Linked DNA regions of Homo sapiens: regions 2 and 3 are each linked to region 1. Evidence: fine-mapped expression QTL. A gene starts in region 1. Each other region holds a variant in brackets. All regions are shown on one strand. Distances are from middle to middle.

What was found. PIP is the estimated chance that this variant, and not a neighbour inherited with it, causes the effect.
Region 2: its variant is fine-mapped to the expression of GIMAP1 in whole blood (INTERVAL, PIP above 0.99).
Region 3: its variant is fine-mapped to the expression of GIMAP1 in whole blood (TOPMed, PIP above 0.99).

What each region holds. Positions count from the first base shown.
Region 1 is chr7:150,708,209-150,719,089 of GRCh38, reverse strand. It overlaps GIMAP1 (GTPase, IMAP family member 1), which reads right to left and starts at 2,477. Exons shown (of 3, transcript NM_130759.4): 1 at 2,400-2,477; 2 at 1-48. The coding sequence starts at 42. GIMAP1-GIMAP5 (GIMAP1-GIMAP5 readthrough) reads right to left here and starts at 2,477. Exons shown (of 5, transcript NM_001303630.2): 1 at 2,400-2,477; 2 at 1-48. The coding sequence starts at 17.
Region 2 is chr7:150,646,732-150,657,612 of GRCh38, reverse strand. It overlaps LOC124901774 (a long non-coding RNA gene), which reads left to right. Exons shown (of 4, transcript XR_007060589.1): 4 at 8,722-9,309. Among named protein-coding and RNA genes, the nearest start is that of GIMAP6, 20 kb to the right of the region's middle. The variant C/TGTGC (reference allele first, on the strand shown) is at 6,756.
Region 3 is chr7:150,693,105-150,703,106 of GRCh38, reverse strand. GIMAP2 (GTPase, IMAP family member 2) reads right to left here. Exons shown (of 3, transcript NM_015660.3): 3 at 9,466-10,002. The coding sequence ends at 9,807. Among named protein-coding and RNA genes, the nearest start is that of GIMAP2, 12 kb to the right of the region's middle. The variant G/A (reference allele first, on the strand shown) is at 7,452.

The DNA of each region.
Region 1 (10,881 bases):
ATAGACATTTTCTTCATCTGTCGCCATCTTCCTTCCTCCCATGCTTACCTGGAAGAGTCCCAAACACAATTTGTTAATTCATTTATTTATTCCTCAAATAGGCATAACCACAAATAGGCATAACCACCTACAGGGTGTCAGGCAAAGTCCAAAGAGCTGGTGACAGCACAGTGAAAAGACATGGTTTTTGCTTGCAAGGATCTAAAAATCTAGGTGTATGTCTTGGCAGAAGGGCACGTGGCTAGAGAGAAGACAGGTAAATTTCGTCAAATATAATACATTGTGCTAATCCTTCTTTAAGTAAGGATTATATCGGAACTTGAGAGAATGGCCTTGGAAGGGCCAACACCCTGCCCTTGAGTTGGTAGGATGCTGTGAGAACATTGGGTGAGGCTAGATTTGTCTTTTCAGGAACTCCAAAAGCAAAAAGCAGAGGGTCGGTTATAACATTTACTCAATGCCAATGGGCTTTAGGTATTACTTTTCCCTGGGTGATTCTATATCACTGACATAAGCTAGAGATATCAGGGGATTCAGCAGCTGGGGGAAGATTAGGTAAACCCTCAGAACCAGAAAATGTGCCCAGTGACTTAGGCACCCACCTTCAAGTGGCTGACCTGGGAAGAAAGAAGAAAATTGGGATTTTTCTTTTGGAAATTGAACAGATCTCCCAAGTAGATCTGGAGGGCCCCTAACTCTGTTTTCTTAAAATCAAATAATTTGGTTTGTTTAGAGATGTCTAAATACGATATCTGTGCTGGAGAGACTTGAACACTTCCCTTCAACTCCTGAAGTTGCTTCCCCTCCAAATGTGATTATGCTGAAATCTAACATTGTGTAATACAGCTAAACCCTCTGTGATCCAGTTTGCCTAATCACACAAGCTCCTGAACACAAATTCACTTCTCCCTGCATCTATGTCTCCAGCCTCATTCCCAGACAATACCCCACTCGGTCAGCTACTTCACAATCAGCAGATTTCAGGGCCTTTCCAACCCACTCGGCTTCCCCTCCTAGGACTATTGATCCTCCCCGACCATCTGTCTGTGCCTCACCATCCATGTCAAACTTGTTGTGTCTTGCACCCTGGTCACTTGGATACCTGTGTTCTCTCCCATTGGCACCACACATGAAGGAGGGGCAGAGAGAGAGGCTGGCTGAGTAACTTGTCTTTGATTGAAGGACTTGGAGAACAGATTTGCCTCATATTAAATCTAGAGCTGTTTCTGTTTCTGCAGGAACTCTACTGGCCCTCCCCAAAGCCTTCAATAAAATTCACTCCATGGGCCTTATGTGATTAATTATTTTGCATGTAGGAATGAACAGATGATCATAAATGACATCAAAGCAGAAATGAAGAAACAGTTGCAAGATTCAGAGAAAAGAATTTAGATGAAGCAAAATGTCCTTGTCAACCAAGAAAATGAGAATTTCTTTTTCCAGTGCTGCAGAATTCTGGATAGGCCTTTGGAATTTTCCATAGTTTAGAAGAGGGGTTGAAATGATTTTAAATAGTTTTTTTTTTTAAAGGAAAGTAAGACCCAGCTGAACTCTGAGGTGACAAATGGCCCTTAATCATTGAGGAATGTACACTTATAGAATCCTGTATTCCTAACACTTTAAGAGACCGCAAAGTTTATTGAGTTCTTCACCGCTCAAATGTGCTGCTTCTCAGAATTACTTGAATGTTCTTTAAAAATGTACATCTCTTGGATCCATCCTGAGATTCTGATTCATGAATTAAATGTTTCTGATGTCCACAGCTCAGAACTTGGACATCAGTCATTTTTGCAACCCCCTTTATTGTACAGATGGGAATTTGAGGTGTCCCCGTGGCTGGAGCAGGAGAAGCTTGAATTAAGGGAGCAGATGTTTAAGGGGCCATGCAGGGAAAGGGGTTGAAGACCAAGATATTAATCTCAGATGTCTCCTCAGGGGCCCCTTCTGTGGACAGTGAGGAGGAGAGTTCAAATGTACCCAGTCTTGTCACGTCGTAACTCACTCCGAGGTTAGATGGCTTATGGGGCCATAGAAATATCTTTTGCCTTTGCTCAATAGGGAGCTTGAGGAATGTTTAATGCCTTTCAAACTGTATTTTATTCCTGGAGGTGGTTCCAGCACACTCTTTTCTTACTTTGTTAAGGGAATGTGGGAGGAGACAGATTTCACTCCCCACCAAGAACGTGTGTGCTCCAGAGCTGGAGAAGATGATCCTAAAATTTCCTCTGAACTTTGCCTACTTAAAAACCTGGAAGTATGTCCTTGATTGTTCCAGATCTTGCTCGCCTGCATGATGCCTTGTAGAATGCAAGTGTTCAGGCAGTAAACACTCTAGGAATCATGTTCTTTCTGGTTCTCAGAGCACCCCCAGCCCCCGCCACTCCCAGGCTCAGGCTCACCTTTCCTGGTGACAGGCTCTGAAGTTGGCCACAAGAAGCCCCAACCTGCTGCTTTCCCTTCGGCTGTGAGTGCAGAAGGCTGTTTCCTCTCGGCACACGGAGGAAATCACTCAGACTTCAGAAATCAGGAAGCTCAGGGTGGGCCCCATGGTTATGGTTTAAAGAGACAGAAACATTTCCCATTGAGCTGTGGGTTGGCAATACTTCTCCTACCGACTCTACTTTCTGCTGTGACTGAGGTTATGTGTCTCCAGCAGGGCCTCATGATGTCAAATATCTTGCCATGCTCTAAGAAGGGAGGGATGTTGTAGTCTCTGAGGCCTGACTGTACTTCTAAAATTGATTACTGAGCTAATCTTCAGTTGCCTTTGCCCTATAGGGACATTTCCCCATATAAAATAGGCCCAGAGAGTCTCCTGCCCCGGAACAAATAACGTAATAGCTGTTCTCATCATCTGTCCATTAATTAGACATTCATGTGGCCAGTGCCAGCCCCAGATCCAGTCTGCCAGAAAAACCTGAAGGCAAAGTCTTATCATTCTCTGAGAGAGGAGGGCTTTCCCAGCTATTGAAGGACTTGAGGGTGAACTGGTATGTTGAGGATGAACACCTTCGCACTATCTTCAATTTAGCCTTATTAGGAGGCTTTAGTCTAGTCGTCTATGTTGGTATCACCAGTTCTAGTTATTCTATCTTCTCTCAAGAGCATCATGAGGTCAGCAAAAAAGCGAATCACTGGGTGGTAAGAAGGCTACAGAGGAGCAGGCTGCATATCTGGTTAGGTCATTAACCAGCTATAGGACCTCACCTAACTCATTTAAACTTTCTGGAGTTGGCTTTCTGGAGTATATGGGGAAGACAATAACCCGAGTCTTACCCTACTGGATAGGATCTGCTTTTTAACCTCTTTCATGCCAGACCACTTTTTTTCTGGTAGGGAAGAGACCCAGCTTTTACTGTTTCCCATCTTTTTGGGGGCACAGAGTCTCCTGGATATCTGACATGTCCACTGTTTCCATTCATCATTGCTGAAACAGGGAGCCTGTCATTCTCCCAGTAGACCGGCAGGGCTGGGGCTATTGTGAGGCAGGTGGGGCATCTAGAGCACACAGCTTAAGGAGGCACTCACTCTCAGGTCACCCAAGTGCAGATCTTGTAGGTGGGTGACCCTGGGAGTGAGTGTTTTCTTAAGAGTGAGGTGCCTAGGGCTTCTCACTAGCCTCATCCTAGCCCAAGCCACATAGATCAGCTTTGAATAAGTCTTTGATACTTGACGTGTACCTTTCATAAAGACGCTTTCAGAGCCTCTTCAACAGCTCCGGGCCATTTATTGTTTCCATGCATGTGTATGATGTCTTACTTCAGCCACTCATAACTCTCTGTCAGAGGGTTTATCTGACTACAAAAGTATATGTAGGTAATGCATGCAGCAGCCTGAAGTTGTCAGAGCTGATATCCTAGGAGCAGATTTCAATCAATGTCAGTTAGGACTTATGGATAAACACCACAACTTATCAAGTTGTCCACCACGTGAGACAACTCTGTGATGTACTGCATACAAATTGCTGAGTCCCCAGCAGGACTGAGACCCAGTTGTCTGCAGTGGGAACATCCTCATCACCGTATACAGTGGTAATGTGCTCATTAATGCAACTTGCATTGGCTACTATCCCTTCCCGTCCCACATTTCCACTTTCCTACTGGTGCTTTCTGGGATCTTCTTCCTATTGAAAAGTAACCGTTTCTGTCTTTATTTTCCTCTACATTTCTATTAGCTCTTGATTATGTCTCACTGTCTCTGGGCTTTGTTGCCTATTATTATTCATTGATACTTACTATCAGTTGTGGAAACCCAGGTGAAGCTCAGACCCTGACTACACTTGAGTCTCAGAATTATATCTAGAACTCCGGCTTCCTTTTGTACCCTGTATTAATGCTTCCTTCCTCTCTTTCCAGTCTTTGCATGTTCATTGTTTTCTTCCGTATCCTTATAAATGCAGTGAAGAAAATGTATTAGTCCGTCCTCACGCTGCTTTAAAGAAATACCCGAGATTGGGTAATTTATAAAGAAAAGAGATTTAATTGGCTCACGGTTCCACAGCCTGTACAGGGAGCATGATGCTGGCATCTCCTTGGCTTCTGGGGAGGCCTCAGGAAACTTACAATCATGGCAGAAGCCAGAGGGGAAGCACACACATCTCATGGCTGGAGTAGGAGCAAGAGAGAATGGGAAGGAGCTGCATACTTAAAAATTTTTATTTAATGTACTTTACATTCTGGGATACATGTGCAGAACATGCAGGTTTGTTACATAGGTATACATTTGCCATGGTGGTCTGCTGCACCCATCAACCTGTCATCTAGGTTTTAAGGTATTTGTCCCAATGCTCTCCCTCCACTTGCCTCCCCAACCCCCGACAGGCCCCCATGTGTGATGTTCCCCTCCCTGTGTCCATGTGTTCTCATTGTTCAACTCCCACTTATGAGTGAGAACATGCAGTGTTCGGTTTTCTGTTCCTGTGTTAGTTTCCTGAGAATGATGGTTTCCAGCTTCATCCATGTCCCTACAAAGGACATGAACTCATACTTTTTATGGCTGCATAGTATTCCATGGTATATATGGGCCACACTTTCTTTATCCAGTCTATCACTGATGGGCATTTGGGTTGGTTCCAAGTCTTTGCTATTGTGAACAGTGCTGTAATAAACATATATATGCATGTGTCTTTATAGCAGAATAATTTATAATCCTTTGGGTATATACCCAGTAATGGGATTGCTGGGTCAAATGGTATTTCTGGTTTTAGATCCTTGAGGAATTGCCACACTGTTTTCCACAATGGTTGAACTACTTTACACTCCCACCAACAGTGTAAAAGCATTCCTATTTCTCCACATCCTCTCCAGCATCTGTTTCCTGACTTTTTAATGATCGCCACTCTAACTGGTGTGAGACGGTATCTCATTGTGGTTTTGATTTGCATTTCTCTAATGACCAGTGATGATGAGGTTTTTTTTATATGTTTGTCACATAAATGTCTTCTTTTGAGAAGTGTCTGTTCATATCCTTCACCCAATTTTTGATAGGGTTGTTTGTTTTTTTTCTTGTAAATTTGTTTAAGTTCTTTGTAGATTCTGGATATTAGACTTTGTCACATGGATAGATTGCAAAAATTTTCTCCCATTCTGTAGGTTGTCTGTTCACTCTGATAATAGTTTCTTTTGCTGTGCAGAAGCTCTTTAGTTTAATTAGATCCCATTTGTCAGTTTTGGCTTTTCTTGCAATTGCTTTTGGTGTTTTAGTCATGAAGTCTTTACCATGCCTATGTCTTGAAGGGTATTGCCTAGGTTTTCTTCTACGGTTTTTATGGCTTTAGGTTTGACATTTAAGTCTTTAATACATCTTGAGTTATTTTTTGTATAAGGCGTAAGGTGTGAGGAAGGGGTCCAGTTTCAGTTTTCTGCATATGGCTAGCCAGTTTTCCCAGCGCCACTTGTTAAATAGGGAATCCTTTCCCCATTGCTTGTTTTGGTCAGATTTGTTGGAGATCAGATGGTTGTATATGTGTAGTGTTATTTCTGAGGCCTCTGTTTTGTTCCATTGGTCTATATATCTGTTTTGGTACCAGTACCATGCTGTTTTGGTTACTGTAGCCTTGTAGTATAGTTTGAAGTCAGGTAGTGTGATGCCACCAGCTTTGATCTTGATCTTTTTGCTTAGGATTGTCTTGGCTATACAGTCTCTTCTTTGGTTCTATATGAAATTTAAAGTAGTTTTTTCTTGTTCTGTGAAGAAAGTCAATGGTAGCTTGATGGGAATAGCATTGAATCTATGAATTACTTTGGGCAGTATGGCCATTTTCACAATGTTGATTCTTCCTATCCATGAGCATGGAATGTTTTTCCATTTGTTTATGTCCTCTCTTATTTCCTTGAGCAGTGGTTTATAGTTCTCCTTGAAGAGGTTGTTCACATCCCTTGTAAGCTGTATTCCTAGGTATTTAATATACTTTGTAGCAATTGTGAATGGGAATTCACTCATGATTTGGCTCTCTGTTTGTCTGTTATTGGTGTATAGGAATGCTTGTGATTTTTGCACATTGATTTTGTATCCTGAGACTTTGCTGAAGTTACTCATGAGCTTAAGGAGTTTTAGGGCTGAGACAATGGGGTTTTCTAAATATACAATCATGTCACCTGCAAACAGAGACAATTTGACTTCCTCACTTCCTATTTGTATATCCTTTGTTTCTTTCTCTTGCCTGATTGCCTTGGCCAGAACTTCCAATACTATGTTGAATAGGAGTGGTGAGAGAGGGCATCTTTGTCTTGTGCCAGTTTTCAAAGGGAGTGCTTCCAGCTTTTGCACAGTCAGTATGATATTGGCTATAGGTTTGTCATAAATAGCTCATTATTATTATTATTTTGTTTATTGTTATTATACTTTAAGTTTTAGGGTACATGTGCACAATGTGCAGGTTAGTTACATATGTATACATGTGCCATGCTGGTGCGCTGCACCCACTAACTCGTCATCTAGCATTAGGTATATCTCCCAACGCTATCTCTCCCCACTCCCCCCACCCCACAACAGTCCCCAGAGTGTGATGTTCCCCTTACTGTGTCCATGTGTTCTCATTGTTCAATTCCCACCTATGAGTGAGAATATGCGGTGTTTGGTTTTTTGTTCTTGCGATAGTTTACTGAGAATGATGATTTCCAATTTCATCCATGTCCCTACAAAGGACATGAACTCATCATTTTTTATGGCTGCATAGTATTCCATGGTGTATATGTGCCACATTTTCTTAATCCAGTCTATTGTTGTTGGACATTTGGGTTGGTTCCAAGTCTTTGCTATTGTGAATAATGCCGCAATAAACATACGTGTACATGTGTCTTTATAGCAGCATGATTTATAGTCCTTTGGGTATATACCCAGTAATGGGATGGCTGGGTCAAATGGTATTTCTAGTTCTAGATCCCTGAGGAATCACCACACTGACTTCCACAATGGTTGAACTAGTTTACAGTCCCACCAACAGTGTAAAAGTGTTCCTATTTCTCCACATCCTCTCCAGCACCTGTTGTTTCCTGACTTTTTAATGATCGCCATTGTAACTGGTGTGAGATGGTATCTCATTGTGGTTTTGATTTGCATTTCTCTGATGGCCAGTGATGATGAGCATTTTTTCATGTGTTTTTTGGCTGCATAAATGCCTTCTTTTGAGAAGTGTCTGTTCATATCCTTCGCCCACTTTTTGACGGGGTTGTTTGTTTTTTTCTTGTAAATTTGTTTGAGTTCATTGTGGATTCTGGATATTAGCCCTTTGTCAGATGAGTAGGTTGCAAAAATTTTCTCCCATTCTGTAGGTTGCCTGTTCACTCTGATGGTAGTTTCTTTTGCTGTGCAGAAGCTCTTTAGTTTAATTAGATCCCATTTGTCAATTTTGGCTTTTGTTGCCATTGCTTTTGGTGTTTTAGACATGAAGTCCTTGCCCATGCCTATGTCCTGAATGGTAAAGCCTAGGTTTTCTTCTAGGGTTTTTATGGTTTTAGGTCTAATGTTTAAGTCTTTAATCCATCTTGAATTGATTTTTGTATAAGGTGTAAGGAAGGGATCCAGTTTCAGCTTTCTACATATGTCTTGCCAGTTTTCCCAGCACCATTTATTAAATAGGGAATCCTTTCCCCATTGCTTGTTTTTCTCAGGTTTGTCAAAGATCAGATGGTTGTAGATAAGCGGCGTTATTTCTGAGGGCTCTGTTCTGTTCCATTGATCTATATCTCTGTTTTGGTACCGGTACCATGCTGTTTTGGTTACTGTAGCCTTGTAGTATAGTTTGAAGTCAGGTAGTGTGATGCCTCCAGCTTAGTTCTTTTGGCTTAGGATTGACTTGGCAATGCGGGCTCTTTTTTGGTTCCATATGACCTTTGAAGTAGTTTTTTCCAATTCTGTGAAGAAAGTCATTGGTAGCTTGATGGGGATGGCATTGAATCTGTAAATTACCTTGGGCAGTATGGCCATTTTCACGATATTGATTCTTCCTACCCATGAGCATGGAATGTTCTTCCATTTGTTTGTGTCCTCTTTTATTTCATTGAGCAGTGGTTTGTAGTTCTCCTTGAAGAGGTCCTTCACATCCCTTGTAAGTCGGATTCCTAGGTATTTTATTCTCTTGGAAGCAATTGTGAATGGGAGTTCACTCATGATTTGGCTCTCTGTTTGTCTGTTGTTGGTGTATAAGAATGCTTGTGATTTTTGTACATTGATTTTGTATCCTGAGACTTTGCTGAAGTTGCTTATCAGCTTAAGGAGATTTTGGGCTGAGACAATGGGGTTTTCTAGATATACAATCATGTCGTCTGCAAACAGGGACAATTTGACTTCCTCTTTTCCTAATTGAGTACCCTTTATTTCCTTCTCCTGCCTAATTGCCCTGGCCAGAACTTCCAACACTATGTTGAATAGGAGTGGTGAGAGAGGGCATCCCTGTCTTGTGCCAGTTTTCAAAGGGAATGCTTCCAGTTTTTGTCCATTCAGTATGATATTGGCTGTGGGTTTGTCATAGATAGCTCTTATTATTTTGAAATACGTCCCATCAATACGTAATTTATTGAGAGTTTTTAGCATGAAGGTTGTTGAATTTTGTCAAAGGCCTTTTCTGCATCTATTGAGATAACCATGTGGTTTTTGTCTTTGGTTCTGTTTATATGCTGGATTACATTTATTGATTTGCATATATTGAACCAGCCTTGCATCCCAGGGATGAAGCCCACTTGATCATGGTGGAGAAGGTTTTTGATGTGCTGCTGGATTCGGTTTGCCAGTATTTTATTGAGGATTTTTGCATCAAAGTTCATCGAGGATATTGGTCTAAAATTCTCTTTTTTGGTTGTGTCTCTGCCCGGCTTTGGTATCAGGATGATGCTGGCCTCATAAAATGAGTTAGGGAGGATTCCCTCTTTTTCTGTTGATTGGAATAGTTTCAGAAGGAATGGTACCAGTTCCTCCTTGTACCTCTGGTAGAATTCAGCTGTGAATCCATCTGGTCCTGGACTCTTTTTGGTTGGTAAGCTATTGATTATTGCCACAATTTCAGAGCCTGCTATTGGTCTATTCAGAGATTCAACTTCTTCCTGGTTTAGTCTTGGGAGAGTGTATGTGTTGAGGAATTTATCCATTTCTTCTAGATTTTCTAGTTTATTTGCGTAGAGGTGTTTGTAGTATTCTCTGATGGTAGTTTGTGTTTCTGTGGAATCAGTGGTGATATCCCCTTTATCATTTTTTATTGCGTCTATTTGATTCTTCTCTCTTTTTTTATTAGTCTTGATAGCGGTTTATCAATTTTGTTGATCCTTTCAAAAAACCAGCTCCTGGATTCATTAATTTTTTGAAGAGTTTTTTGTGTCTCTATTTCCTTCAGTTCCACTCTGATTTTAGTTATTTCTTGCCTTCTGCTAGCTTTTGAATGTGTTTGCTCTTGCTTCTCTAGTTCTTTTAATTGTGATGTTAGGGTGTCAATTTTGGATCTTTCCTGCTTTCTCTTGTGGGCATTTAGTGCTATAAATTTCCCTCTACACACTGCTTTGAATGCGTCCCAGAGATTCTGGTATGTTGTGTCTTTGTTCTCGTTGGTTTCAAAGAATATCTTTATTTCTGCCTTCATTTCGTTATGTACCCAGTAGTCATTCAGGATCAGGTTGTTCAGTTTCCATGTATTTGAGCAGTTTTGAATGAGATTCTTAATCCTGAGTTCTAGTTTGATTGCACTGTGGTCTGAGAGATAGTTTGTTATAATTTCTGTTCTTTTACATTTGCTGAGGAGAGCTTTACTTCCAAGTATGTGGTCAATTTTGGAATAGGTGTGGTGTGGTGCTGAAAAAAATGTATATTTTGTTGATTTGGGGTGGAGTGTTCTGTAGATGTCTATTAGGTCTGCTTGGTGCAGAGCTGAGTTCAATTCCTGGGTATCCTTGTTGACTTTCTGTCTCATTGAATTGTCTAATGTTGACAGTGGGGTGTTAAAATCTCCCACTATTAATGTGTTGGAGTCTAAGTCTCTTTGTAGGTCACTCAGGAGTTGCTTTATGAATCTGGGTGCTCCTGCATTTGGTGCATATATATTTAGGATAGTTAGCTCTTCTTGTTGAATTGATCCCTTTACCATTATATAATGGCCTTCTTTGTCTCTTTTGATCTTTGTTGGTTTAAAGTCTGTTTTATCAGAGACTAGGATTGCAACCCCTGCCTTTTTTTGTTTTCCGTTTGCTTGGTAGATCTTCCTCCATCCTTTTATTTTGAGCCTATGTGTGTCTCTGCACGTGAGATGGGTTTCCTGAATACAGCACACTGATGGGTCTTGACTCTTTATCCAATTTGCCAGTCTGTGTCTTTTAATTGGAGAATTTAGTCCATTTTCATTTATAGTTAATATTGTTATGTGTGAATTTGATCCTGTCATTATGATGTTAGCTGGTT
Region 2 (10,881 bases), 61 kb after region 1:
TCACTCAGTCTAAGGGCCCACATGTGCACTGGAAGGATGGGATGGAGCTGCCAGGAATTTGCACCTTAAGCCTGGATATTCAACTGTGAAGGGTGCAATGGCAACCTGCTCTCAGGACCACTCTCTTTGCTGGGAGTTTTCCTTTTGCTTAATAAATTCTACTGCAGCCACTCTCTGGTATCTGTGTGCCTAATTCTTCCTGGATGTGAGACAAGGACCAAGACCTAGCTGAGCTAAGGAGCAAAATCCTGCATCATAGTTATAATCCATTGTAGGGGGCATCAAAAGGACTTAACCCCTATAGCACAAGGAAACAAAAAGGCAGATAGGGAAGCCAAAGCAGCAGTTCAGGGTGCAATCTCAACAAATCCTAGCACTGCTTCCTTTCTACGATTTCCCAATAGAACCTGAATACACATCACAGGAAAAACAGTTAATAAAGGAGCAAAGGGGACAAAAACAAGGATCCTGTGGTGTATGGGATCAAAAATGTATCTCTCTCAAACGGCCCAATGGAGAATTATAAAAATCTTCATGACTTTTTCCATATGGGAAGAGATGCCACTCTGGTCTGGTAAACAGATTCTTCATTGGGCCTAACTTAGCTTCAGTGGTTAAGCAGATCTGACAAACCTGCTCACTGTGTGCATTCAACAACCCAGGAAACAAAATGCCTCCTCTAATAGGACCAGTCCAGAGAAGGAGAACTTACCCAGGGGAAGACTGGCAACTGGACTTTACCCACATGCCAGGTTGTAAAGGATACAAGTTTTTGTTAGTACGAATAGACACTTTTACTAGCTGTGTTGAAGCTTACCCTACCAGAATAGAGAAGGCTAATGAGGTTATAAAGTTTCTCTTGAAGGAAATATTCCCCCAGTTTGGGTTACCCCAAAGCCTCCAAAGTGATCACAGCCTTCTTTTGTCTCCCAAATAACTCAAGGGTTATTTATAACTCCCAAATAACTCTCACATAACTAAGGCTCTTGGAATCAAATACTATTTACATTCAGCATGGAGGCCTTAATCCTCCAAGAAAGTAGAAAAGGCTAATCAAACTCTAAAACGGGCATTAGCTAAGCTACATCAGGAAACAACAGAAACTTGGATCAGCTTACTGCCCATATCCCTCTTAAGAATTTGTAATTCCCCAAGAGCAAAAATTAATATGAGCCCATATGAAATATTATATGGGAGGCCATTTTAAACTAATGATCTAATGATTGATCCAGAAGCAGCCGGTTTAGTAAAATACTTAGTTAACCTGGGACAATTTCAGCAGGCTTTACAAAAAGTTTGGAACTCAAAGGTTCCCTGTACCAGGAACTAACCAGCGCACCAAGGTCAGGCCAGGAGATAAGGTACTTGTTAAAACATGGAACGAAGGGTCACCTGCTCAACAATTACAACCCAAATGGAAAGGACTGTTTTCCGTTGTGTTGGCCACGCCTTCCACAGTCAAAGCACTAGGATCAGATTGTTGGATACATCTTTCCAGGGTTAAGTCTGCAATATCTGAAGCCCTGGACCTGGAACTGGAGGCTCCCTCCAGCCACTATACCTGTGAACCTGTGGAAGACCTGAAGTACCTGTTTAAAAGAAAGCCAAAAGATAAGTAAATACCTACCAATTTTCCCTGGTGTAAAATGTTAATTGATTTTTGCTCCCTCACTTACAGATGCTTGTGCAAGGGTTTCAGTCAGTTTTGGAACAAAATCCAAAATCGAGCCAAAGATACTCAACTGTCACAACTGGATCAAGCTAGCTGCACCTTTTATGACCAAGTACAAGTTTCATTGCAGCCCACGGACACTGACCTAACTACCTAGGGACAAAGAGCCAGGATTCTCAATAGGCAGGGACAATGCCCGTGACCAGCAGGAAGCAGCTACAGAAAGCTGATCTTCAGTGCCTCTGCCTCCCATAAAGATTCAAGGGGATCATGTCTCTCAGCAGGAAATGAGACAGGAGAATAGGGAATTAAGGTAACCAAGGGTTAAGGCATAAGCAAAAAAACAGCAGGTGCCGACAGTTCTAGGCAAGATTAGGCAGCATAAAGGCCACATCCTTGCTCCTGTGATAACAAGACATAAGTTTCCACTTTATTCTCTGATTGGTCACAGGCCAATCCTTCATAAGGTGTAACCAATTGGAGACCTCTAAAGGGCACCCAGGTGGGTGTGGTGGTATGCGGCCTGTAATCCCAGCTACTCAGGAGGCTGAGGCAGGAGCATCACTTGAACTTGGGAGGCAGAAGTTGCAGTGAGCCGAGATTGCACCACTGCACTCCAGCCTTGGCAATAGACAAGACTCAGTCATAAATAAATAAATGGCACCTAGAGGTGTTGCCAAGTTATTTTGGCTATATAAAAACATTGGGGAGCATTGTAACAAGGAGATTCTTGTGCTGGTTGCTGGAGCTCACTCCCACCCTGTAAACTGTCTTCAACAAATCTGTGCTTTCATTACTTCCTTGCTTTGTCTTTCATTGCTTCATTCTTTTGTTACTTTGTGCATTTTGTTCAATTCTTTGTTCAACACTTCAAGAACCTGGACAACTCTATCAGTAACAATAGGATTGAACAAAGTAGTATGTATATTGCAAATAATGTTGCACAAACAAGTTACAAATAAGAATAGAACTTACTGCTTTTTAAAAGCATGTAGATAGAGAGATGCAGAAATCAACATAAGTATGTGGATTTGCATATGTAAATTTGCACGCATGGCTTTCCCAGCTCTGTCTGCTAAGGCGAGCTTAGAAAAAGTGACACCTTCTAGCAATGAGCACATCAAGTGTCCAAATCTTTGTTTATTACCCAATAACCAGAACCAAAAGTCCTTGGAAAAGGGGTAGATTCCAGAGAATGTTTCTCATGTATAGATTTGGCAAAACTCCTAAAGTTTGACAGCCTACTTTCTTGACAAAAGTATAGGGAAGACAGAAACTCTCAGACACTGCTGAAGGGAAAGCAAAAGAGTTCAGCCCTATGGGGGTAAATAAAGAAGGATTTACCCTTTGACACACATTATCAAATTTAAGAATGTGCCCAAAAATACACTGGCAAAAGTATAGAAAGAACTATGCAAAAATCTCCTTGGAAGAGTACTATTTAAAAAAGCAAAGACAAAAACTGATCCAAATTACCATGAATAAGAGACTGGCGGGATGAACTTAGATACATCTATGCAATGAAGTACTTCTTCATTGTAAAAAGTAGTGAAGACTATCTCTATAGAGAGTTGTAAAATCATCTCCAGGATATATTGCTAAGTATTTTATTCAATTATGAGTTGAATAAAATAATGTAAGGGATACTATCATTTGTTTAGTAAGGGGCACAAGATACACTTTTGCATATATATTTATTATATTTATATGTTATATATTTTCATATAGATACATAAATATAAGGATGACAATAGAAAGATATACTTTGAAAACAAGCAAGGAAAGAAAGAAGGAAGGGAAAGAAGAAAAAGAGAAAAAGAGAGGTAGAAGAAAGGAAGAAATAAAAGAAGAAAGCAAGAAAGAGTAACAAGGAAGGAAAAAGTTACCTGTGTACAGAGGGAGGGAATAGAAATGAGAGCAGAAGCTGGACTTCTTTGAATTGACTGTTATGAAGATTTGATTTTAGAATGATAAAAATATTTGAGTTGAAGTGTGACTCTACCACACTCACTCTTAACCATGCACTCTACAGCCTGTCCTTGGTTACTCTCAAACCATGATTGTACATTTTCATTGACATCATGTGATAAATAGGTCAGGGGAGGGCAAAGGAAATGATCCACACTTTGCTCAGAAGGTGAGCTGGGAGCAAGCCTTGGATTGGAGAGTCCATGGGGAGGGCTCCGCACTTCTCTGTGGACTTTTCCCTCTATCCCATACTGAAAAGCCAAAGATGAGAGAGAGACAGAAAAAATCATTTTTTTTTTTTGAGATGGAGTCTCACACTGGCATCCGGGCTGGAGTGCAGTAGCATGATCTCGGCTCACTGCAACCTCCCCCTCCCAGGTTCAAGCGATTCTCCTGCTTCAGCCTCCCAAGTAGCTGGGATTACAGGCACCCGCCATGGCGTCCAGCTAATTTTTTTGTATTTTTAGTAGAGACGGGGTTTCATTACGTTGGTCAGGCTGGTCTCAAACTCCTGACCTTGTGATCCACTCGCCTCAGCCTCCCAAAGTGCTGGGATTACAGGCATGAGCCACCGCGCCTGGCCTAGAAAAATCATTTTAAAACTTTCCTAAATGGGAGACAATTAGATCATCATAGCAGATGGCAGGCAGGACCAGATTGCAGTTCTGGACAGAGCAGCTTGTGGAAGCTCACATTGTGAATTTTAGCGGCAGATCAACTGCAAGAACAAACCAGCAACCCTGAGAGGACCCTCCAAAGGAAGCAGTCTGCTCCTGCAGGACCTGGGAGATACCCCAAATACTGTGAGTGCCCCAACTGCAGAAGTGGGAAAGGGAGACCCTCCTCTCCCAAACACACAACAAAAAAAAAAGTCCAGGACCAGATAGATTCACAGTAGAATTCTACCACACATTCAAAGAAGAATTGGTACCAATCCTTTTGATGCTGTTCTACAAGATAGAGGAAGAAGGAACCCTCCCTAATTCATTTTATGAAGCCAGCATCACAGTAATACCAAAACCAGGAAAGGACATAATCAAAAAAGAAAACTACAGACTGATATCCTTGATGAACATTGATGCTAAAATCCTTAACAAAATACTAGCTAACTGAATCCAACATATCAAAAAATATGATCGAGTAGGTTTCATACCAGGGGTACAGGGATGGTTTAACATATGCAAGTCAATAAATGTGTTATACCACATAAACAGAATTAAAAACAAAAATCACATGATCATCTCAATAGATGTGGAGAAAGCATTTGACAAAATCCAGCATCCTTTTATGATTAAAACTCTCATCAAAATCAGCATAAAAGGACCATACCTTAATGTAATAAAAGCCATCTATGACAAACCCATAGCCAACATAATACTGAATAGGGAAAAGCTGAAAGCATTCTCCCTGAGAACTAGAACCAGACAAGGATGCCCACTCTCACTGCTCCTCTTCAACATAGTACTAGAAGTCCTAGCCAGAGCAATCAGACAAGAGAAAGAAATAAAGGGCATCCAATCAGTAAAGAGAAAGTAAAATTGTCACTATTTGCTGATGATATGATTGTTTACCTTGAATACCCTAAGGACTCCTCCAGAAATCTCCTAGAACTGATAAAAGAATTCAGCAAAGTTCTGGATATAAAATTAATGTACATAAATCAGTAGCTCTTCTATACACCAACAGCAACCAAGCAGAGAATCAAATCAAGAACTCAATATTTTTTACAATAGCTGCAAAAAATAAATAAAATAAAATAAAATAAAATAAAATAAAATACTTAGGAATATACCTAACCAAGGAGCTGAAACACCTCTACAAGGAAAACTACAAAACACGTCTTAAAGAAATCATAGGTGACACTAATGGAAACACATCCCATGCTCATGGATGGGTAGAATCAATATTGTGAAAATGACCATACTGCCAAAAGCCATCTACAAAGTCAGTGCAATCCCCATCAAAATACCACCATCATTCTTCACAAGATTAGAAAAAACAATTCTAAACTTCATAAGGAACCAAAAAGGAGCCCACATAGCCAAAGCATGACTAAGCAAAAAGAACAAATCTGAATGCATCACGCTACCTAATTTCGAACCATAAAACAGTGTGATACTGTTTTATAGGCACATAGACCAATGGAACAGAATAGAGAATCCAGAAATAAACCCAAATACTTATAGCCAACTGATCTTTGACAAAGCAAACAAAAACATAAAGTGGGGGAAAGGACACCTTTTTCAACAAATGTTGCTGGGGTAATTGGCAGCCACGTGTAGGAGAATGAAACTGGATCCTCATCTCTCACCTTATAGAAAAATCAACTCAAGATGGAGTAAGAACTTAAGCCTAAGACCTGAAACTACAAAAATTCTAGAAGATAACATTGGAAAAGCCCTTTTAGACATTGGTTTAGGCAAGGATTTCATGACCAAAAGCAAATGCAATAAAAACAAAGATAAATAACTGGGAGCTAATTAAACTAAAGAGCTTTTGCATGGCAAAAGGAACAGTAAGCAGAGTAAATAGACAACCCACAGAGTGGGAGAAAATCTACACAACTGTCAAAGGACTAATATTAAGAATCTACAACAAACTCAAACAAATCGGTAAGAAAAAAAATCCCATCTAAAAGTGCGCTAAGGACATGAACAGACAATTCTCAAAAGAAGATATACAAATGGCCAACAAACATATGAAAAAATGCTCAACATCACTAATGATCAGGGAAATGCAAATCAAAACCACTATGCAATACCACCTTACTCCTGCAAGAATGGCCATAATCCAACAATCAAAAAACAGTAGATGTTGGCGTGGACGCAGTGAACAGGGAACACTTCTACACTGCTGGTGGGAATGTAAACTAATACAGCCACCATGGAAAACAGTGTTGAGATTCCTTAAAGAAATAAAAGTAGAACTACCATTTGATCCAGGAATCTCACTACTGGATATCTACCCAGAGGAAAAGAAGTCATTATTCAAAAAAGATACTTGCACATGCATGTTTATAATAGCCCAATTCACAGTAGCAAAATCATGGAACCAATCCAAATGCCCATTAATCAAAGAGTGGATAAACTGTAGTGTGTGTGTGTGTGTGTGTGCG[C/TGTGC]GCGCGTGTGTGTGTATGATGGAATACTATGCAGCCATAAAAAGAATGAATTAACACCATTTTCAGTAACCTGGATGAGATTCGAGACTATTATTCTAAGCCAAGTAATTCAGGAATGGAAAACCAAATATCATATGTTCTCCCTGATATGTGGGAGCTAAGCTATGAGGACACAAAGGCATAAGAATGATACAATAGACTTTGGGGACTTGGGGGGAAATGTGGGAGGGGGCGAGGGATAAAACACTACAAATATGGTGCAGTATATACTACTCAGGTGATGGGTATACCAAAATCTCACAAATCACCACAAAAGAACTTACTCATGTAACCAAATACCACCTGCACCCCAATAACTTATGGAAAAAGGTCACATTAAAAAAAAAAAAAACTTCCCTAAGTGGTTCTTGGAAGACCCAGATGACCTCCAGCTAAGAGGAGGGCTGAGAAGTGAAACAAGCGTGTGCTTCAGACATGAGCTGACCTAACTGTAGCCAGACCCACCATTTCTGGAAGATTCCATAAGCTTCTTGAGACTTAGTTCCCTCTGCTATGAAAAGGGTCAATAAAACCAGTTGTGCAGGGTTGTCATGTGGTTTTCATGGAATAATTTCTAAAAGTCTTACACATTGCCTAGAGCACAGCAGCCACTCAAGATGCCACGGGATATATAAGAGAAGCACGGACTAAAAAATCGTTCTGTGTCTTACCTAGAACCACACTGCAACTTAGGGGTTCAGCTGGAATTACAAATTATAGTCGTTTTTTAGAGCAGCTAATCTTCTCCCTAAGCTCCCTATCCTCCACCCCATCTCTTATACTATTAGGAGCACAGCCTCCTTCTTGGGAGGTGTTGGAATATATCTAGACATGGAGTTAGTAGACCAAGTTCTAGTCTTTTCTTGTCAACCTAGAGGACACTTGGGATGTCCCCAATTCACTGGGCTTTGATTCTTTTTCAGTAATTAAAGCAATTAGAGTAGGTTTAGATTTGGTGTCTCTAAATTGCCTGCAAGTTCTGAAGACCTGTCCTGGGGACACTAATATCCTGTTAAAGGTAAATGACAGTTTTCAGACAACAGCATCACAACAGACACCAGATAGAAAGTGCCTGTTAAGCAAAGGCCTGTCCTGTGCAATATGAGCTGGAGTGACATTCTGCTTGAACTCTCAGCTTCCCCTCCCACAGCCTCTACACTCACATGCAGGCTGCCCCCCATGACCCCCACTCACACACAGCTCCCTGCTCTCCTTCCCAGCCAGCCTCACCTGCTTTTGCAGAATGGATGAGCTCACAAGTCTCTCCAGGGAAGTGTGAACTACCATTTTTACTTCCAGCGAAACCTCTGACCCCGCTCAACTTCTGACCATGGAAGCTCCAAAGGAGTGGAGCCAATGAAGAAATATTTCACATTTAAACAGAAAAAGAATGTAGTATTTCACAATTTGGTAGGTGCTTCAGTTTTGCCTGAGGGAAGTGTTTTTCTCCATGCACCTGCTGGACTCCCGAGAAACCCAGTCACAGCCATTGCTTTGGATGGTAGTGTGACTCTGAAGACCTAGTGAAATAGCCCAAATTTTGCTCAATGTTGTATTCTCTATGGTCAGCCACTGAGATCCACTTCCTTCCCCTCCATTTCAGGACTGAAGTCCCGAGTCTCCCTGCTGACTTGACGGGAGTGTTGAGAGCTGACAGCTGCTGGCTGAGCCCTGCCCCCACCCCTAAGACACCACCTCATGATTGGTCTCAGCTAAAAAGTCACTTCCTCCAAGGTCATCTCCCATTCCCAGGGCCACTCACACCTGATGACTTGTCAGTGTAGAGGTATAGAGGCCTGGCCTCTGGCCCCAATTTTGGGTAGCTGTGCAGGGCCATCTTAGTCTCTGGGCTCCTGGAGGGGTTGACTCACTAGGCCTTTGTTGTCATCACAGCCTGACTTCCTCTGCTTCCTTCACTCGCCCACAGGCTCTTCCCAAAAATACTCCTAAATGAATTTCATGCCTGCACAACTTTATCTCAGCATCTGCTGAACTGTGACAGCAACATCCAGAAAGCACAGTCTAATCCTCACTGAATGAGGGGAAGTTGAAGGGTGAGTGTGCGAGAGATTTGGGTGGGTACACAGAGCCAAACTATATCACATGAGTTATACCTAATCAGTTATTATTTGTATATTAGTAAATTATTATAGTTTGTATTTAGTTGCACCCATCAACTTACTAAATTCTCTTATTGTTAGAGTAGTTTATCACTTCCTGGGCTGTGGTAATGGATTGCAGAGCATGGGTGCTTGCTCTTGTGACTGTGGCCTATGAGGTTATTTTTGTTTTTGGAGTCCTGGCACACTTACAGGTAATTTCCACCTGTGCCTCAGAACCAAGTTTTCGCTCCAGTTTAGAAGAGAACATTTTCAGAGGCTTGTAAAAAACTGACATTGAATTAAATTTACAGGTAATGTAGAAATAATTTACTGACTTTTTTATGATAACACATGTGGAACAAAAGGCTCATATAAGTTTATAGCTTAGGGAATTGTCATATTTGTTTGCTGTAAGCTTTTATATGTATCCATATTATAATATGTAGGTATAGATTATGCCTTCTCATAACTGTATTTGATTTTATTGGGTGAATATAGCCCAATTCATTTGGTGTCTATTGTAGATGGACATTTGCATTGCTTTCAGTTTTTTTATGAGTACACTGCTATAAATATTATAGGCATTATCTTTTGTTGAACACCTATTTCTCTTGGGTATGCACCCAAGAGTAGAATGGCTGAATATTGGCTATGTGTAACCTTCAGCTTTCATAGATACTACCAGATAATTTTTTTTTGAGACAGTCTCATTCTGTTGCCCAGGCTGGAGTGCAGGGGTGCGATCTTGGCTCACTACAACCTCTGCCTCCTAGGTTCAAGTAATTCTCCTGCCTCAGCTTCCCGAGTAGCTGGGATTACAGATGTGTGCCACCACGCCTGGCTAATTTTTGTATTTTTAGTAGAAGGGGGATTTCACCATGTTGGCCAGGCTGGTCTTGAACTCCTGACCTCAAATGATCCACCCACCTTGGCCTCCCAAAGTGCTGGGATTATAGGTGTAAGCCACCATGCCCAGCCCAGATAATTTTCCAAAGTGGTTTTACCAATGCACATTTTCATCAAGCCTTCTATGAGAGTTCTTTTTGCTGCATATCCTCAGAAGTTTCCTATTTTTTTTTTTCTTTTTTGAGATGAGGTTTCACTCTTGTTGCTCAGGCTTGAGTGCAGTGGCACAATCTCGGCTCACGTTCCAGTGATTCTCCTGTCTCAGCCTCCCAAATAGCTGGAATTACAGGTGCCCACCCCCATGCCCGGCTTGTTTTTTGTGTTTTTATTAGAGACAAGGTTTTATCATGTTGGGCAGGCCGGCCTCAAACTCCTGACCTCAGGTGATTCACCCACCTCTGCCTCCCAAAGTGTTGGGATTACAGGCATGAGCCACTATGCCCAGCCCCTCAGATGTTTCTTAAAGTTTTCTTTACACAGAGGTTACACATTTTAGAAGTTTGTCCTAGGTATTTTATCTTTTTGTTATTTTTAAAAATGTGATGTATTAGTCCATTCTTGCACTGCTATAAAGAAATATCTGAAACTGGATAATTTATAAAGAAAAGAGGTTTAATTGGCTCATGGTTCTGTGGGCTATACTGGCTTCTGCTTCTGAGGGGGGGCCTCAGGAAACTTACAATCATGGTGGAAAGTGAAGGGGAAGCAGGCACATATTCACATGGCCAGCAGAAGAGAGAGAGAGTGAAAGGAGAGGTGCTACACACTTTCAAACAACCAGATCTCATGAGAACTCTATCACGAGAACAGCAAGGTGGAAGTCTTCCCCCATGATTCAGTCACCTCCCACCAGACCCCTCCTCCAACACTGGGGATTACAATTCAACATGAGATTTCAGTGGAGACACAGAGCCAAACCATATCACATGTGTTATACCTAATCAGTTTTTATTTGTAACTTAGTAAATTACTATAGTTTGTATTTAGTTTGCACCTACCAACTTACCAAATTCTCCTATTTTTAAGTAGTTCATCAGTTTATTCTCTTGATTTTCACAGATATGAAATCATATTTTCTG
Region 3 (10,002 bases), 16 kb after region 1:
TTTTTCTCTTCTTTTGGGTCTCTAATAATGTATACATTGGTCGGCTTTATGTGTCCCATAAGTCCCTTAAGGTATCTTCACTCTTTCATTCTTATTTCTTTTTGCTCCTCTGATTGGATGATTTCCAATGGCCTGTCTTCAAGTTCACTGATGCTTTCTTCTGCTTGGTTTAGTCTGCTGCTGAACTTCTCTGTTGAATTTTTCAGTTCAGGCATTGTATTCTTCGGCTGTATCACTTCTGTTTGGTATGTTTAAACATTTTCTATCTGTGTGTTGAAAGTCTCACTTTGTTCATGCCTTTCTCTCCTGACCTCAGTGAATATTTTTAAGACCATTATTTTGAATTCCCTGCTGGGTAAATGACTTGTCACTATTTTATTAAGTTGACTTCTGGAGTTTTATCTTTTTTTGTTTTGTTTTGTTTTTTGTTTTGTTGTTGTTGTTGTTGTTTGAAACGTATTTTCCTGTTTCTTCATTTTCCTTGATTCTGTGTTGGTTTCTGTGCATTAGATAAAACAGCTACCTCTCCAGTCTTGTGTAGGAATAAACCACACAAATCAGTATGGCCAGTGATTCTGGGTGCCTCCCAAATCTTTGTGCTTGTCCAAACCATTGCCTATGTTCTTCATGGGCCCCAGAAGATTAATGTGTTCCATATCCCATTAGTGCCCTGAGACAATTCAAAAAGAAGTGAATACTTTGAGAAGAAGCTGGAAAATTTATGGTGCTAGATGTGTGGTCCAGTTTTTTTTTTCTCTCTTCAGGGAGAAGCTTGGAACTGAAGTGTATTTGCCCTTGTTCTGGAATAAGGCATGGAGACTATCTGTGTCAGATTCCTGCACTCTCGTTCAGACTGTACACTCTTTCAACCCTTTGGTCTGCTCTTTGTTTCCCTCAGGGGCCTAATGAATATTGATTCCCATTGGCTGTCAGAGACAGGTGAGTCAGATGGAGGCTTGGTACTATCTCTAGAGCAAGCTGAGAAGAGGATTTGTGGGAAGTGCCTATAGTTCCCTTCAGGCTCCCAGAGAAGTACTTATTGCCTGCCCCATCAGCTCCCAGATGCAGGCTAATTAAAGGCTTGATCCTGGGAAGCAGCAGTGAAAGTTAAGATGTTAGGTTTGCAGTTGAACCCCTTCCAGGGAGAAACTGGAAACTGGGTGTTTTGCCTTCTTGTTCTGTGCCGAGCCAGGGGAAGTAGCCACTACAGGTGCTCCTATTCCCATTTAAAATCAAATCAATTCTTTGTTCTCTGTGGTCTGGGGGGACTTGTAAATGCTAAGTCATGTCAGTTCCCAGAGATAAGTGATTTAGGAGCTAGTCTCTCAAGTGGGAGCTGTACAAGTTGGGGTGCTCAATGTGTAGACAAGCCCCTTCCAGGCAGAAGCTGGAGGCTTGGTTTTACTGCTGGAGTAATATGGTGGGGGGGGGGGGGAAGATTGCTAATTAGCTGCATTTAAAATAGATTATTTTGGATTGTCTGGGTACCCCCAGTGTAATCACAATGGCCCTTAAAAGTGGAGAGAGATGCGGAAAAGAAGTTCATAGTGATTTGATGTGAGAAGGACTCAATCCATTGTCATTGGCTTTGAAGGTGGAACTGGGCCATAAGCCAAGGAATGCAGGTGATCTCTAGAAGCTGCAAAAGGCAAGGAAATTGATTCTCCAGTACAGCCTCCAGAAAAGAACTCATCCTCACCAACAACTTGAGACTCATGTTGAACCTCTAAGTTCCAAAACTGTAAGATAATAAATTTTTGTTGTTTTAAGCTACTAAATTTATGGTAACAGCAGCAACAGGAAACTAAGCATATTGGACTTGAAAATGTGTATTCTGCTGTTATTAAGTGGAATGTTCTATAAATGTCAATTAGGTCAAATTGGTTGACAATGTTGGCACACTGAATAATGCCCCCAAAGATATCCATGTCTTATTGCCCAGGACATACCTGTGGATGTTACTTTATATGTCAAAAAGGGACATTGCAGATGTAATTGAGTTAAGGATCTTGAGATAAAGAGATTATTTTTGATTGTCCAGATGGACTCTAAATATAAATTTTAAGAGAAGCAGAGGGAAGGCACAGAAAAAGAGGGCAATGTGAGGACTGAAGCAAGATGCTGTGCTGCTGGCTTTGAAGATGAAGGAAGGGGCCATGAGCAGCTCTAAAAGCTGCAAAAGGCAAAAAAATATTTCCCTTAGAGATTTTGGAGAAGTAGGGCACTACCATCACCTTGATTTCAGCCCCATGAAACTGATTTTGGACTGTTGATTTCCAGAACTGTGAGAGAATAAATGGCTTGTATTAAGACACGAAGCTTGTAGGAATTTCTTGCAGCAGCCATAGGAAACTAATACAATGGTGTTCAAATCTTCTCTATCTTTACTGATTTTTTTGTCTACTTGTACTATTATTATTATTTTTCCATACCTATCTTCTATACTATTAATTATTGAGAGGGGCATTAAAATCTCTGGCCATATTTGTGAGTTTTTCTTTTTATTATTGCAATTCTGTCAATTTTTGCTTCATGTGTTTTGGAATTCTGTTATTACACACATAAAAGTTTTAGATTGTTATGTCCTCTTGATGAATTGATGGCTTTATCATTGTAGAATGTCCTTCTTCATTCCTGATAATATTTTTTCCTTTGAAGTCTACTTTGTCTGATATTAATATTGTCATTCCAAGTATCTTTTGATTAGTGTCATTATAGAATATCTTTTTTCATCCTTTTCTGCTTAAGCCAGCTGTCTTTATATTTAGTGCAAGATTCATGTAGGCAAAATATAGATAAGCTTTGCTTTTTAAATCCACTCTGACAATCACTGCCTTTTAACTGAGGATATTCAGACCATGTACTCTAATATTTAGATTATTGACTTCTTTAGATTTAAATCTATCATCTTACTATTTTTCAAATTTGTCGCATTTGTTCTTTGTTTCCCTTTTTACTGCCTTCATTTATATTAATTGAACTTTTAAAAAATTCCATTTTTCCTCTCTCTGTTGGCTTATTATCTATAACTCTTTGTTATTTTATTGGTTGACTTAGAGTTTATAGTATAGAGCTTTTGCTTGCCTCAGTTCACCTTGAAGTGATATCATATCACTTTACATAGAGCATAAACATTTTATAATAGTATCTTTCCATTTTTCCTCTCCTGATTTTTTGTCCTATTGTTCTCACAGGTTTTACTTTTGCATATATTGCAAAACTCAATCTATATTGTTATTATTTTTGTTTAAGCAGTCAATTATATTTTAAAGGTATTTAATTAATAAGAAAAATACCCTATATATTTACTCATGTGGTTACCATTTTTGATGATCTTAATTCCTTTGAAAAGATCAGTATTTTTCTCTGATATCATTCTCCTTTTTTAACTTTTTTTTTTTTTTTTGTAGTTCAGGTCTGCTGGCAACAAACTGAGCTACTGAATGTCTGGAAAAGCTTTTATTTTGCCTTCATTTTTGAAAGGTAATTTTGAAAAATAATTTTAATTTGACAGTTTTTCTTCTAATACAGTCATGTGTCACATAATGATGTTTTGGTCAACAACAGACCACATATGCGATGTTGGTCCCATAAGAGTATAGCACCCTATTTTTACTGTATTTTTTTTCTGTGTTTAGTATGTTTAGATACACAAATACTTACCAGTGTGTTACAGTTGCCTACAGTATTCACTACAGTAGCATGCTCTACAGGTTTGTAGTCTAGGAGCAATAGGCCATATCATACAGCCTAGGTGTGTAGTAGGCTGTACCATTTAGGTTTGTGTAAGTACACTCTACAATGTTCACAGAATGATGAAGTAGCTTAATGGTGCACTTCTCAGAATATATCCCCATTGTTAAGTGACACATGATTGTACTTTGTAAATGTTGTTTCACTGTCTTCTCTGTCACATTAATTCTTCAGAAAAATCTGTTGTCATCCTTACCTTTGTTTCTCTGGACATAACATATGTTTTTTTTCCTCTGGCTGCTTTAAGAATTGTCCTTTTATCATTCATTTTGATCAACCTGATTATCATGTTTCTTCTTGTGGATGTCTTATTTGCTTGGGGTTCACTGAACTTCTTGGGTTCTTGTGCTTACAGTTTTCATAAAATTTGGAAAATTTTTGGCCATTATTGATTCCAATATTTTTTCTGTCCTGACCCCCTTTTATTTTTAGTGAATCCAGTTACATATACATTCCACTTGAGGTTGTCCCAGAGCTCACTGAAGCTCTGTTCTTTGAAAGTGACTATTCTTTTTTTCTTTTGTGTTTTCTATGTTGGGACATTTCTATTGCTGTGTCTTCAAGTTCATTAATCTTCTCTCTTTTCTAAATTTTTAGGTTCAGGGGTAAATATGCAGGTTTGTTATATAGGTAAACTTGTGTCACAAGGGTTTGTTGTACAGATTGTTTTGTCACTCAGATACTAAGCCTAGTACCCAATAGTTGTTTTTTCTGTTCCTTTTCCTCCTTCCATCCTGCACCCTCAAATAGGCCCCAGTGTCTGTTGTTCTCCTCTTTGTGTCCATATGTTCTTATCATTTAGCTCCCACATGAGAACATGTACTATTTGGTTTTCTGTTCCTGCATTAGTTTGTTAAGGATAATGGCCTCCGGTTCCATTAATGTTCCTGCAAAGGACATGATCTCATTCTTTTTTATGGCTGTGTAGTATTCCATAGTGTATATGTACATTTTCTTTATCCAGTCTAGCATTGATGGGCATTTAGGTTGATTCCATGTTTTTGCTATTGTGAATAGTGCTGCAATGAACATACATATGCATGTGTGTCTTTATGATAGAATAATTTATATTCCTTTGAGGATATACCCAGTAATGGGATTGCTGGGTTGAATGGTAGTTCTGGTTTTAGATCTTTGAGGAATTGCCACACTGCTTTCCACAATGGTTGAACTAATTTACACTCTCACCAACAGTGTATCAGTGTTCCCTTTTCTCAGCAACCTTGCCAGCATTTGTTATTTTTTGACTTTTTAGTAATAGCCATTTGGACTGATGTGCGATAGTATCTCATTGTAGTTTATTTTGTATTTCTCTAATTATCAGTGATATTGAGCTTTTTTAAAATATGCTTGCTGGCCACATGTATGTCTTGTTTTGAAAAGTGGCTATTCATGTCCTTTGCCCACTTTTTAATGGGGTTGCTTTTTTTTCTTATAAATTTGCTTGAGTTTCTTACAGATGCTGGATATTAAACCTTTGTCAGGTGCATAATTTGTAAAAATTTTCTCCCATTCTGTAGGTTGTCTGTTTACTCTGTTGATAGTTTCTTTTGCTGTGCAGAAGCTCTTTAATTGGATTCTATTTGTCAGTTTTTGCTTTTGCTGCAATTGCCTTTGGCATCTTCATCATGAAATTTTTGCCAGTTCGTATGCCCAGAATAATATTGTCTAGGTTGTTTTCCAGGGTTTATATAGTTTTTGGGTTTTACATTTAAGTCTTTAATTCATCTTGAGTTGATTTTTGTATATGGTATAAGGAAGGGGTTCAGCTTCAATCTTCTGCATATGGCTAGCCTGGTTAGCCAGTTATCCCAGCACCATTTATTGAATAGGGAGTCCTTTCCCCATTGTTTATTTTTGGCAGATGGTTGTAGTTGGTGTGGCCTTATTTTTGGCCTCTCTATTCTGTTCCATTGGTTATATGTCTGTTTTTGTACCAGTACCATGCTATTTTGCTTACTGTAGCTCTGTAGTATAGTTTGAAGTTACGTAGCATGATGCCTCCAGCTTTGTTCTTTTTGCTTAGGATCACCTTGGCTATTAAGGCTGTTTTGATTCCATATGAATTTTAAAATAGTTTTCTTTCTAGTTCTGTGAAGAATGTCATTGGTAGTTTGATACGAATAAGATTGAATTTATAAATTACATTGGGCAGTATGGTCATTTTAACAATATTGATTCTTCTTATTCATGAGCATAGAATGTTATTTCATTTGTTTGTGTCATCTCTGACTTCTTTAAGCAGTGTTTTGTAGTTCTCATTATAGAGATCTTTCGCCTCCCTAGTTAGCTGTGTTCCTAAATATTTATTCTTTTTGAGGCAGTTGTGAATGAGATTGCATTCCTGATTTAGCTTTCGGCTTGACTGTTGTTGTTATATAGGAATGCTAGTGACTTTTGTACATTGATTTTGTATCCTGAGGCTTTGCTGAAGTTCTTTATCAGCCGAAGGAGCTTTTGGGCTGAGACTATGGGATTTTTTAGATATAGGCTCATGTTGTCTGCAAACAAGGATAGTGTAAATTTCTCTCTTCCCATTTGGAAGAGAGAAACAAACTCTCTTTTGTTACTCTCTTTTATTTCTCTCTCTTATCTGATTGCTCTGGCCAGGACTTTCAATACTATGTTGAATGGAAGTGGTGAAAGAGGACATCCTTGTCTTGTGTCAGTTTTCAAGGGGAATACTTTCAGGTTTTGTCCATTCAGTATAATGTTGGCTGTGGGTTTGTCATAGATAGCTCTTATTATTTTGAAGGTATGTTTCTTCAATACCTGGTTTATTGAGAGTTTTTAACATGAAGGGATTTTTGAATTTGATTGAAAGCCTTTTCTGCATCTATTTAGATGATCATAAGTTCACTAATCTTTTCTTTTTCAGCCTAATATTTTGCTAACCCTATTCAATGTACTTCTTATATCTTTTATGGTAGTTTTTATCTCTAGAGGTTAAATTTGGATCTTTTTAATGTCTTCCACCTTACTACTTAAACTGTTTTAACATATAGCACACAGTTGTAATAACTGTGTTAATGTTTTTGGCTGATAATTCTAACACTTTTGTCAGTCTGGGCTGGTATTTATTCATTGATTTATCTCTTCATATTTTCTTGCTAATTTTCATGTTTGGTAATTTTTTACTGGATGCCAGACATCTGGTTTTGACCTTCTTATGTGCTGAATATTTTCTTACTTCTGTAAATATTCTTGAGCTTTCTTCTGGGATGCATTTAAGTTACTTGGAAACAGTTTGATCCTTCAGGTCTTGCTTTTAATATTTGGTAGGCATACTTGATAAGTTGTCAGTCTAGAACCAATTATTTCCCACTAGTGAGGCAAGGCTCTTCTGGGAAATCTACCCAATGCCCCACAAATCACAGGCTTTTTTAGTTTTTATGGTCCGTGGTGAGTGCAGGACACTGTTTCCTCTAATCTTGTTGACTGGTTCTTTTTGTCACCTCAGGGGGTTTCACCACATGCATGTGGTGATCAGTATTCAATTGAAGACTCAAGGGGGACTCTCTGCAGGTGTCTAGTTTTCTCTCCATATAGCTCTCTCCTCTCTCAGACTCTGTTATGTGAACTCTTAGCCACCTTTGTATCTCCAGAATCCCAACTCTATCTTCTCAAATCAGGGAGTCTGCCAGGCTCCACCTGGTTTCCATAAATGTTAGTTTTTTAATGCTGCATAACAAATTACC[G/A]CGAACTTAGCAACTTAAAACAGCATAGATTTATTATCTCAAGATTAGTGTGGGCAGGGAGTGTAGACATAGCTTAACTGTATGTTCTCTGCTTTAGGGTTTCACCAGCCTGTAATGCTAGCTTAAGTCTAATCAGAGGCTTGATGGGAAAGATCTGAACCCTCAGGATGTTGACACAATTTGTTTCTTTGTGGCTGTGACCAAGGATTTTGACTTTTTCCTGTATGTTGGCTAGAGGCCACCTGCAGTTCTCTGCCATGTTAGCCCTGTTCATAGGCAATTCACAAAATGGAAATTTGCTCCTTGAAGGCCAGGAGGAAAGGAAAAGCAAGTCTTTGTGCAGCTATATAAATCACTGGAGTGACATTCTGTCACCTATGCCATGTTCTATTGGTTAGAAATAGGTCTCAGATCCCACCTACAATCAAGGGGAGGAGTTCTACAAAGGTGTGAACACCAGGGGCCAGGAATCATTTGAAGTCAACATAGGGTCTGTCTGTTATACCCTCTCTGTGTTGTGACCTGAAAACTCTCTCAAGACAGGAGGCTGGGAAAATTGAAACTCTTGTCTTGTTTTCCAATTCTCAGTGATTACTCTCTTTTGTTACCTGATTTTCAGTGTCTTCAGCACTGTCATTTTATATCATTTGTCCATTTTTTGATTGTTTCACATGGGGCAGGAAGGGGATATCTGGTCCTTGTTATGCTATTTTGATCTGACAAGGAAGTCTGAACTCTGTTTTTTAAATTCAGTTTTTCTGTCTGTTGTCAGGATATGGAAGTGTTGTAGCTTTTAAAAAGTTGATATTATATTGAGATTCATTGCTCTACTTTTATTACCTTTAATTATCTATCTAAAATTATTATTTTTCTTTCTCATCAGTACTCATACCTTTTATTTTTATTTCTTTTTTTGAAGTTATTAGATAGATAAGACCTGTGGTAAAATGCTAAATAGAAGCAGTGATAGTCTGCATCTTTTGTTGCTCCAAATTTTAATACAAATCCCTGCAATGTTTGAGAGAAACTCTCTTTTTTCATCTGTCCACTTTTAGATGTTTTCCAGTATCTTTACATAGATTTAAAATTTTTAAAAGTTTTTATAACTGCTACCCATGGAGGAGTTTATGTAATGAATACACTTCTCCAACACTAATAGGAGTATTCATCATTAACTTTAAAAAAATCAATTATAATTTGATTTATTAAAATTTCATGAGTTTTTTCAAATACAGCTCATCATCTTTGGTAGTTTTTTGTTCCTTTTTAATTTGGGCTGTATGTGTGTGATATTCTAAGAAATATTTTATAGCTACTTAGTACACTGTAACTAGTACTGTGATATTAAAGTTTCTGAGTCTACTTCTGTTGGGTTTTTTAATCTTTTTGATCTTGTTCATAGGGACATGATTTGGGTTCACTTTACTGAATTAATTCCATCTGAATACTCAAGTAAATTGGAGATGTTTTCCTCTAGAGAAGATTTGTGTTTGCTTCTACTGGCTGTCAATAATTCAACTAATTTTGGATAACTTTAGTCTCCTGGAAGGTCCTAAATTAATACAGAACACTCCAAATCAGCTCTCCAATTTTACTGACAGCCCAAGATTGATTTCTTCATCTTAGGATTGGTACCGGCATTTGTCTATCGGTCACCTCTGCCTTCCTTGTTCATGTATTCCTCATGGGCCTCAACTCCAGTTTGTGCTCCTCATTTAAAAAAAAATATTGTTTGCTCTACCTTTGGAATTTTCTTTATTTTTCTGGTGAACTCATCAATTATAAAAATTCTGTTTCTTTTAATAAATGTAGCCTCTATTTGCATCTAGCAAGATGATGCTTCAGAATATCCAGTCCAATTTGCTATCTTTTCTGACATTTGTCTTTACTTATGTTTCAGTGATAAATCTGTAGGACGTCAGGGCTAAAATCTGGCTAACATGAGTCATGTCCACTTACCATTTTCTAAGGAGAAAACTATAGAAGAGAATTAACAACATATGATCAAAGGAACTTTACAGTTTATGTAATATTATTTTATTGCCATTTTCATTATATTCAGTAGAAATAGTAGTACTAGAAAGAAGAAAATGAGATTTTAGGAACATAAAACTGGCTTTAGATATTTGAAAATGAGAGGAATTTTATGTTTACAGATTTCAAAAGGCTTTGATATTATATTTCAATGCAAACAGTAACTTATCGTATGATTTGGTTCATTAATAATTGGAGTGATGTTCAGATTTAAACATTTCATAGAATCTCAAATATGACTTCAGGTACCACATTTTACAGGGAAATTACTGTGATTCACCCACTAAATGATAGTGAGTAAATAATAACTGGGATCTGTAACTATAACCTAGGAGTCTTGCGTTCTAGTCTAATAACTGTTCTCAAAAATATCATTAACTTTTTGGGTATAATAAACAGCAAACTGCAGAATAAATTGCACATACTAAAGAGTAAGCAACAAAACAAATTGCACATGCTGTGCAGTATGCAAAGCCACAGAATTATCAATCTGAGAAACAACTGAATACAAAATAAA